Homo sapiens: one gene and its partner. The protein of the gene in region 2 interacts with the protein of the main gene of each other region in a pairwise test. Each region holds a gene or a part of one and is shown on either strand. Other genes may lie near its edges.

Region 1 (3,437 bases), on a different chromosome or scaffold from region 2:
TGACCATTGTCATTACCATTGGTGATTGTATTGCAGGAAAAATATCAGTCAAATTCTGTGCTTTGTACCATGGGCAGAATTCAGACACAGAAATGCAGGAAATACTCCACTTTATAAACAGTTGCTGTGTGGAATTACAGGTAAAGAGGCATGGGACTACCGAAAGAAACACAGTTGAGCTAAGGGGGGGTCTCAGTGGAAAGAAAGAACTGATGGAAATGCAAAGGGTGATGCTACCAAAGAAAAGTAGCTCAAACTGCCTTTGAGTAGTGAAAGATCTTCATCTTTTAAGTATTATTATAGATTATCTTTGAATGAGTAAATCAGAAGTCCTTTATACCCTTTTAGTATCCAACTTAAATGTCTATTGTACATATACCTTCTCAAAATTCAGAGAAAATCACAATGACAAAAGCAAGTGAACTAGTGAGGAAGGATACTGATACTTACCAATATATTTATAGGCTTTTCCCAACTTAACCAGGTGTGTTAAGGATTGTTCCACTATGCTTGCAGTCCACTGGTTGATGTTGTTGTGATTATAATCTTCACCACCTAAAACCCCATCTACACACTAAAAGGGCACAGAGGGCAGTTAATTTAGTCAGTAAAATTGTTCAAAAAGAACAATTTTTACACAAATTGCAGTAAAAATTTATTCAAAACATAAAATATACTTATAGCTCAATAAGGCATCTTAGAAAATATACACTTGGTAAACATTGATTATGCACTGTCTCTAATTGCTTAAGAGTTTTGAAAGAGTTTCCACTTGCATTATCTCACTCTATGAGATACTATGGGCCATATAAAGATAAATATGTCATGGCTTCTGTGTAAATAACTTAATCTAGCAGAGAAGCTAATAAAAAAATTCGAATATCTATAACACAAGGAAGACTAATGATAAATTATGTCATAAAAATTATGGTGGGGAAATTAAAAGGTGCTATCAATTGGTTAACAAGTAGCTTTGAAACAGCTGGGATTTGAACTAGGGCTCACATGCTAGAAACAGGATGGGACTAATTTAAAAACATAATTCTTATGTATACTAATTATATTCTCATTCATACTATGTGATTGTTTAGCTATGAAACAACAACTGATTATATTCTCATTCATACTATGTGATTGTTTAGCTATGAAACAACTAGCACACTTGCCACTGAAAGTAAATAAAGATGCTCTAGAAAGATAAAGTCAAATATCATAATTTCCCATAGTGCTTGATTTCATCCACTTCTGACACCTGATTAAAAGCACTGGCTCTAGTATCACAATCCTAGGTTTTAAGGCCTACTTTGACACCTATCTGCTATGTGACCTTTAGCAAGTGACTTAACCCCTTCAAATCCCTATTTTCCTAATCCTTATAGTAAGGATAACAGCATCATCTTATCAGGTTGTTGTTAGGATGAAATGAGACAATGAATACCAAGTGCTCAAACAGGACTAGCACAGAGTTAGCATATAAATAATGTTAACTACTATTATCATATTGCTGCTGTTATATTTTATATTTGAGTGATAAAGCCTGGATAATAAAGCACTCATTTAATTCATTTTTAGAATCTAACACACACATGCAGCTTCATTTACTATCATTAGACTCATTTAATTCATTTTTAGAATCTAGCTTAATAATACACACATACACACACATGCAGCTTTATTTACTATAATTAGACCACAGTAAAGATTTATGAAGGCACTAATACAAAATCTTAAGTTGGATAGTATAAAATCTTCACTAATGATAAAATATGAAAAGAGAAATGAAATATTTTAGCAAGGTTGACAAAAGTAATATGGCTCAAATTTTTCTCCTAGAAAGCTCAATAACATGACAAAGTAGGAAGGGTAGTGGCTTAAGGATCAGGGGAATAGAATTTTAATTCTGGCTTTACCATTCCTAAGCTGGTGACCTTTGGACAAACCTATTCCTCTCTTGAGATCACCTTTCCTTAAGGATAAAGTAAGAGCACTCATTTTTCTTTCAGGTTATTTAGTAGGACCACTCCAAGTTTTGCTCTAAACAGCAGAAAACACCATGGGGTGTGGGTGCCACTGTAAATAGCCCTGCTAATTACTATTAATTAACATCTAGCCTAATTAATTACATTAACATGGAGGCCCATGAGACAATGAGGTCCTTAAACAGCTCTGTATTCTCAGTGCTAAACTCAGGACCTGGGCACTTAGCAGGTATTCAACAAATGTTGTTGAAGCAATATTGGTTTTGATATACTCGCTGGGTATCTTAAATCAAATACACTTTAGACTAAATTCTAAGTCATTTGTAGCTCACTTTTTCTTCGACGATTTTTTGGGGAAGCAATTTCTATTACTAACACTAAAGAAAATGTATGCATATTACTGATAAATGGGTGTCTCTGAGTTCAGAAGGAAAAACATATTAGCATAGGGGCTCAGAGCAAGAAATCAAAGGAAAGAAAATAAGATCAATAAGAAAATAAGATCAGTAAGGAAATCAGAAATAACTGCTGAAATTATGTAATCATCTAGGAAGTGCTAAACTGTTTTAAAATGTTGCTCATTCTCAGGCATTTCCAATGTCTCAATGGAAATGTTTCAATGGCAGAAGAGGGTTGGTTCATGGGAAGAGGAAAGATAGACATTTAGCTGCAAGTAACCTGTAGCAAAGCTGAGTTTCTTTGCAGTCTCATATTTCATATAAAAATTCAAGAGAAGCTTGTTTTGACTACATAATGCATCAGAGTTTGTTTTTATTCAAAAATGTTTTCAGTTATATTATTTATATTACTTAACTCCCTCTCACAAATATTCAAGAAAAACTGATGTTCTAAAATGCATCCAGTGACTTCTAGCACCACCTAGCCACTGCCGAGTATGTATTTCCCAGTTGAAAAAGCATGATTCTTTTAATTTGATATAATATTAAAGTAACAGGCATATGGTTTGAAAAATCCAGTAGAACAGAAAAGCTTAGAATGAAGAGTTTCCTTCCCACCCTTTCCTTTCCCATCCCCAGTCCCATTCCCCAGAGGAAACTCATCAGTGTACAACTGTTTTTATTTCTTCCAAGGGTTACTTATGTATCTCCAAATAATGTTTATCTCACTATTTCCTGATTTATGAATTATAGGCAACATCCATGTAACTCCTACTATGATAGATGAAAATTTGGTTCCCTCAGACCACCCGCCCCCTTCTCTCAATATAGTGAAATCACGATTTTTTAACTTAAATATATTTACACTGTTAGAAACATGTTTCTTTTCCACTCTGGATGTTTTCTTCAACGCAGAGGATTGTTCTTTAACATTCCTGGCCTCTTGTCCTGTCAGTTATTCCTCCCCATGGAGGTGGAATGAGTTACCTGGTTGGTGGGTGATAACCATTGTTCTAACATCTCATTTGGGAGTCTCCCAAATGTGTTGAACTTGGGCTTT
Region 2 (3,819 bases):
CCTGGGCAACAGGGAGAAACCCTGTCTCTACAAAAAATTAGATGGGTGCGGTGGTGTGCACCTGTAGTCCCAGCTACTTAGGGGGCTGAGGTGGGAGGATCACTTGAGCCCAGGAGGCCGAGGCTGCAGTGAGCCAAGATCACGCCACTGCACTCCAGCCTGGGTGGCTAAGTAAGACCCTGTCTCAAACGAAAGAAACAAAACAGCCTGGAGATGACTCCAAACCCAAGCTCCTGACCCACTGTCGTCAAACCCTTATCTCTACTGGACTGTGACCATGAGCGCCCGAGGCTGCTGGGGCAGGCTGTCATATGGCTGGCAAGCTCAAGTTTCTGCCACAGCCTCTCACTGTGGCCCTTCGGAAGGGGCAGTGCCTAGCTGGCCCGGGGTGGCTAACAGTTAGTGGTTAGTGCTTGGATATGTTACTTGGGTCCCACCCAGGGCACGACTGCACCTCCATGTAAAGGAATATGTTTGCAATTCTCTCTTTAGAGGTTCATCTACTACTCCTTTTCAGCACCCAGCAAATACACTAACACCCATACGACAGCCTCTAAGTGTCCTGGGAACTCCCACTTTTTTATTTTTCTCTTCCAGGAGATTTTCCAGGGAGAGGTGGGGTCCCAAGTCTGGATTAGGGAAGGCGGATCAAGAAACTGCCCATCTGCGGGATGAGATCTGTCCTTCCCTGGGCTCAGGAAGCCCCATCTTTATGTGTTTTCACAGGTCTCTCTTCTCTCTTTTATCGTATGAAGCTCCCCACCGCTCCTGCCACAGGCTTTAATAACCTCAAAGTTCTCACTGTGGGCGGCAGAGACCAAATTTACAGAGCATAAAAATAGCCCCCGGACTTATCGGGCTGCTCTGAAAGCCCTTCCCACAGCGACTGGCTCACACGTCCTTCCCAAGTGGTTTAGGCTGCAGCAAGAGGGATTAAGATTAGCATGGGTGAAAATGTGATAGACCCCTGGGGAAGGCAGGTGTGTGTCCTTCTCTGGGAACCTTGTGACCGGCACTGCTTCAGCCTCAGGACCCAACTCAAGGAAGGAGGGTCCCTTCCCCTCCGAGTGCTCCCGCAGGTCTGAAGAGACCAACATTCTGGTCTCCAAAGGCAATGACAGCCAGTGCCAAAGAAACCCAGACAGAGCACCTGGAACCAGCCCCACTTGCTCTCCACTCCATTTTTTAAATAAAAGTTTATTTATTTATTTATTTTTTAAGAGATGAGATCTCGCTATATTGCCCAGACTGGTCTTGAACCCTGGCCATACGCAATCCTACTGCCTTAGCCTCCTGGAGTAGCTGGGATTACAGGTGCGTGCCACCACACCCAGCCCTCTAACTCCCATTTCTAAAATGAGCACCAGGATGAAGATCAGTGGACAGAAAACAGGGGCTACATCTAAATCTGCAACCCAGCATGAGGGCAGGCCATTTTCACTCTTTTTGCAAAGATGCCCCCTTAACTTTCCAATTCTTCTGTAAGGAATGGGGCGCCCTGGAGGTGGGGATGGCCTCTGCTCAAAATACCCCTTCCCCAAGACCTGTTCCCAAAGAGTCTTAGGAACAAAGGCTGAGGCTGGTATTTCTTGAAAGGAAAATCCTGTTTCCAGCATCTCCTCTGAAATCCTCCTCCAGCTTCTTCTCAGCATTTACAGGATGTGATGTGAAGCCCTTTTCCAATAGTTACAGGCTCCCAGCTGTAGCCCACGAAGTTGTTCTGGGTGCAGGCCAGAGGAAACCCTTTTTAAAATCATCCCCTCCCTCAGTGACTTCTGGGCCAGCCTTAGTCACTGGCACCTTCCTTTCTCCACACCAGGTTTCTCTAAGAAGCAGCCAGAGGCCGAGGTCCAGGGACCTATAGGGGAGGCTCTCACCACCCCATACCTGGCCACCGCCCTCCACTTCTAGCTCAGCCCAGGAGATCCCTGACCATCTTTCAACGACAGCTCTGTCAGGCAGGGACAATGACAGCTGCCCTCAGCTCCAGACCCGGAGTCTCCTGGATGCCCCCCCACACCCAACCCACCCCCAGGCTCACACCTCTAGTCAGTGCCCTGGGAACCTTCCTTTTCTCTCCTGGCCTCTGCAGCTGCCTGGCCCAGCCCCCACCTTCTCACGCACTCCAAGTGCAGCCGGAATGAGCTTTGCAAAATGCAAATCAGAGCCTGTTGTTCCCCTGCTCAGCACCCTCCTGGGGCCTCCCCAGTTCTCCTGGTAATCCCCAATCCCACCTGGTCTCCCAGGCCTGCAGGGTGGTCTCAGCCACCCACACCAGCCCAGACCTCACCGCCCCTTCCTGCCTAGCTCCCTCCTCAGGGTCCCCACAGGCCCGTCGCGCCTGGAGTCCCCCTGAGATGTGGTCACTTGTTTCAACGTCCAACTTCTGGACACCCGACATTCCCCAATGACTGAGGTCCCTGCCCCCTCCTTCAGGGAGCACCACGCCTGTGCCAGTCCTCCCACAGCTCTGGCCTAAATCAGACCCTCCAAAGGAGGAGGAGGCTACTGCCTCCGTCTGCCTGTCCCTAAGTCTGGCAGCGGCATACCCAGTGCACCCTCTTGTCTTCTGAAAACAGAGAGGCATCTGCCCCAGCCCTTTCCCCACACCCTGTCTCCTGGAGCTCGGCTGTTCATGGAAAACAGCCTGGCAGGTGTGTGCATTCCACCCCAAGAGCCGAAAACACAACTCCTGGGTCTGTCCAGGATCGTGAGGCAGACAGACCCGAGTTGGAATCCCAGTTCCTACAAGTGACAACTGACAGCCAAGTGACCTTGGGTCAAGTTTTTTTTTAAGGAATAAGAGCATACACTAAAATGCACAGATCTTGTGTTTGGACGAACATATGCCCTTGTGAAATCCACCTCTCATCTCATCCACCCTAGAAGTTCCCTCTTCCAACTTTACAACTGGCCAAAGTTGCACCCAAGCCTTCTGGAAACAAGCCTCGTGCCTACACACACCCCCTAAACGTGCACACATGCTCCCTCTCTCGCGTGCGCGCGCACGCGCACACACACATACACATACACACACGCACGCACCCACAGGCACCCCCTGGGCTCTGGTCCCCTGTACCATCTTCCTGTCAGTGCCTCCAACTCTAGGTGCCCTGTCAGGGGCCGCACGCCTCCCACCCTGATGCCTGCTCTGGCTCATCTGGGGACTGGCCTAAGACGCACTGCCCACCTGAGTCCTTTCTCTGAGAACCAGGATTTAAAAGGAGGTGAGGGCACCGGATTCCACTCTGTCTTTGCCACTGACTGTGCAACTTCACACACTTCACAGTCACTTAAGCTCCACAGGCCCCTCCTCTTTGGCACACATGACAACTGGCTGTGAAGATTCCTGCGGTACCAGGTCTCTCACCCCAACTCCCGGATCCAACCCTTCCTCATCTATAACCTCCCAGGTGGCTCAGAGCTGCCCCCTGCTCCCCAGATCCTCGGGGCACCCCTGACCCAAGCCCGGGACCATGATTCACTCCTCCCTGGCCTCCACCTCCCATTCCCACCCCTACAACCAACCAGCAGTCACAGCACCCTCTGCAAAGTGCAAACCTGGCTCACCCACCCCCTCACACCCTCACCTTAAAGTCCGTCAGCGTCCCCCATCTTGGCTCCTGAAGACCCCTGCTGCTGCTGGTCCACAGATGCTGTCCGATGCAGCCTGCCCTCCCCACACCACACTGGCCTCTCTCTGGTCCAGCTGGGTCTGCCTCTCAGCTCCCCAAGCTCCCTGTGCCACAGGGCCTTTGCACACACAGTTCCCATCGCCTGGAACCTTCTCTCCCTGCTTTTCTGGTTTAACTCTTGGTC

What was found.
Region 1: the proteins of TESC (region 2) and DYNLT3 interact in a two-hybrid assay, tested with the Homo sapiens proteins (one large-scale study listed by BioGRID and IntAct).

Annotation. Positions count from the first base shown.
Region 1 is NC_000023.11:37,841,332-37,844,768, forward strand, and holds part of DYNLT3 (dynein light chain Tctex-type 3), read right to left. Parts: intron 575-3,437; coding exon 451-574; intron 1-450. UniProt on the Homo sapiens protein: Acts as one of several non-catalytic accessory components of the cytoplasmic dynein 1 complex that are thought to be involved in linking dynein to cargos and to adapter proteins that regulate dynein function.
Region 2 is NC_000012.12:117,050,739-117,054,557, forward strand, and holds part of TESC (calcineurin B homologous protein 3), read right to left. Parts: intron 1-3,819. UniProt on the Homo sapiens protein: Functions as an integral cofactor in cell pH regulation by controlling plasma membrane-type Na(+)/H(+) exchange activity. Promotes the maturation, transport, cell surface stability and exchange activity of SLC9A1/NHE1 at the plasma membrane.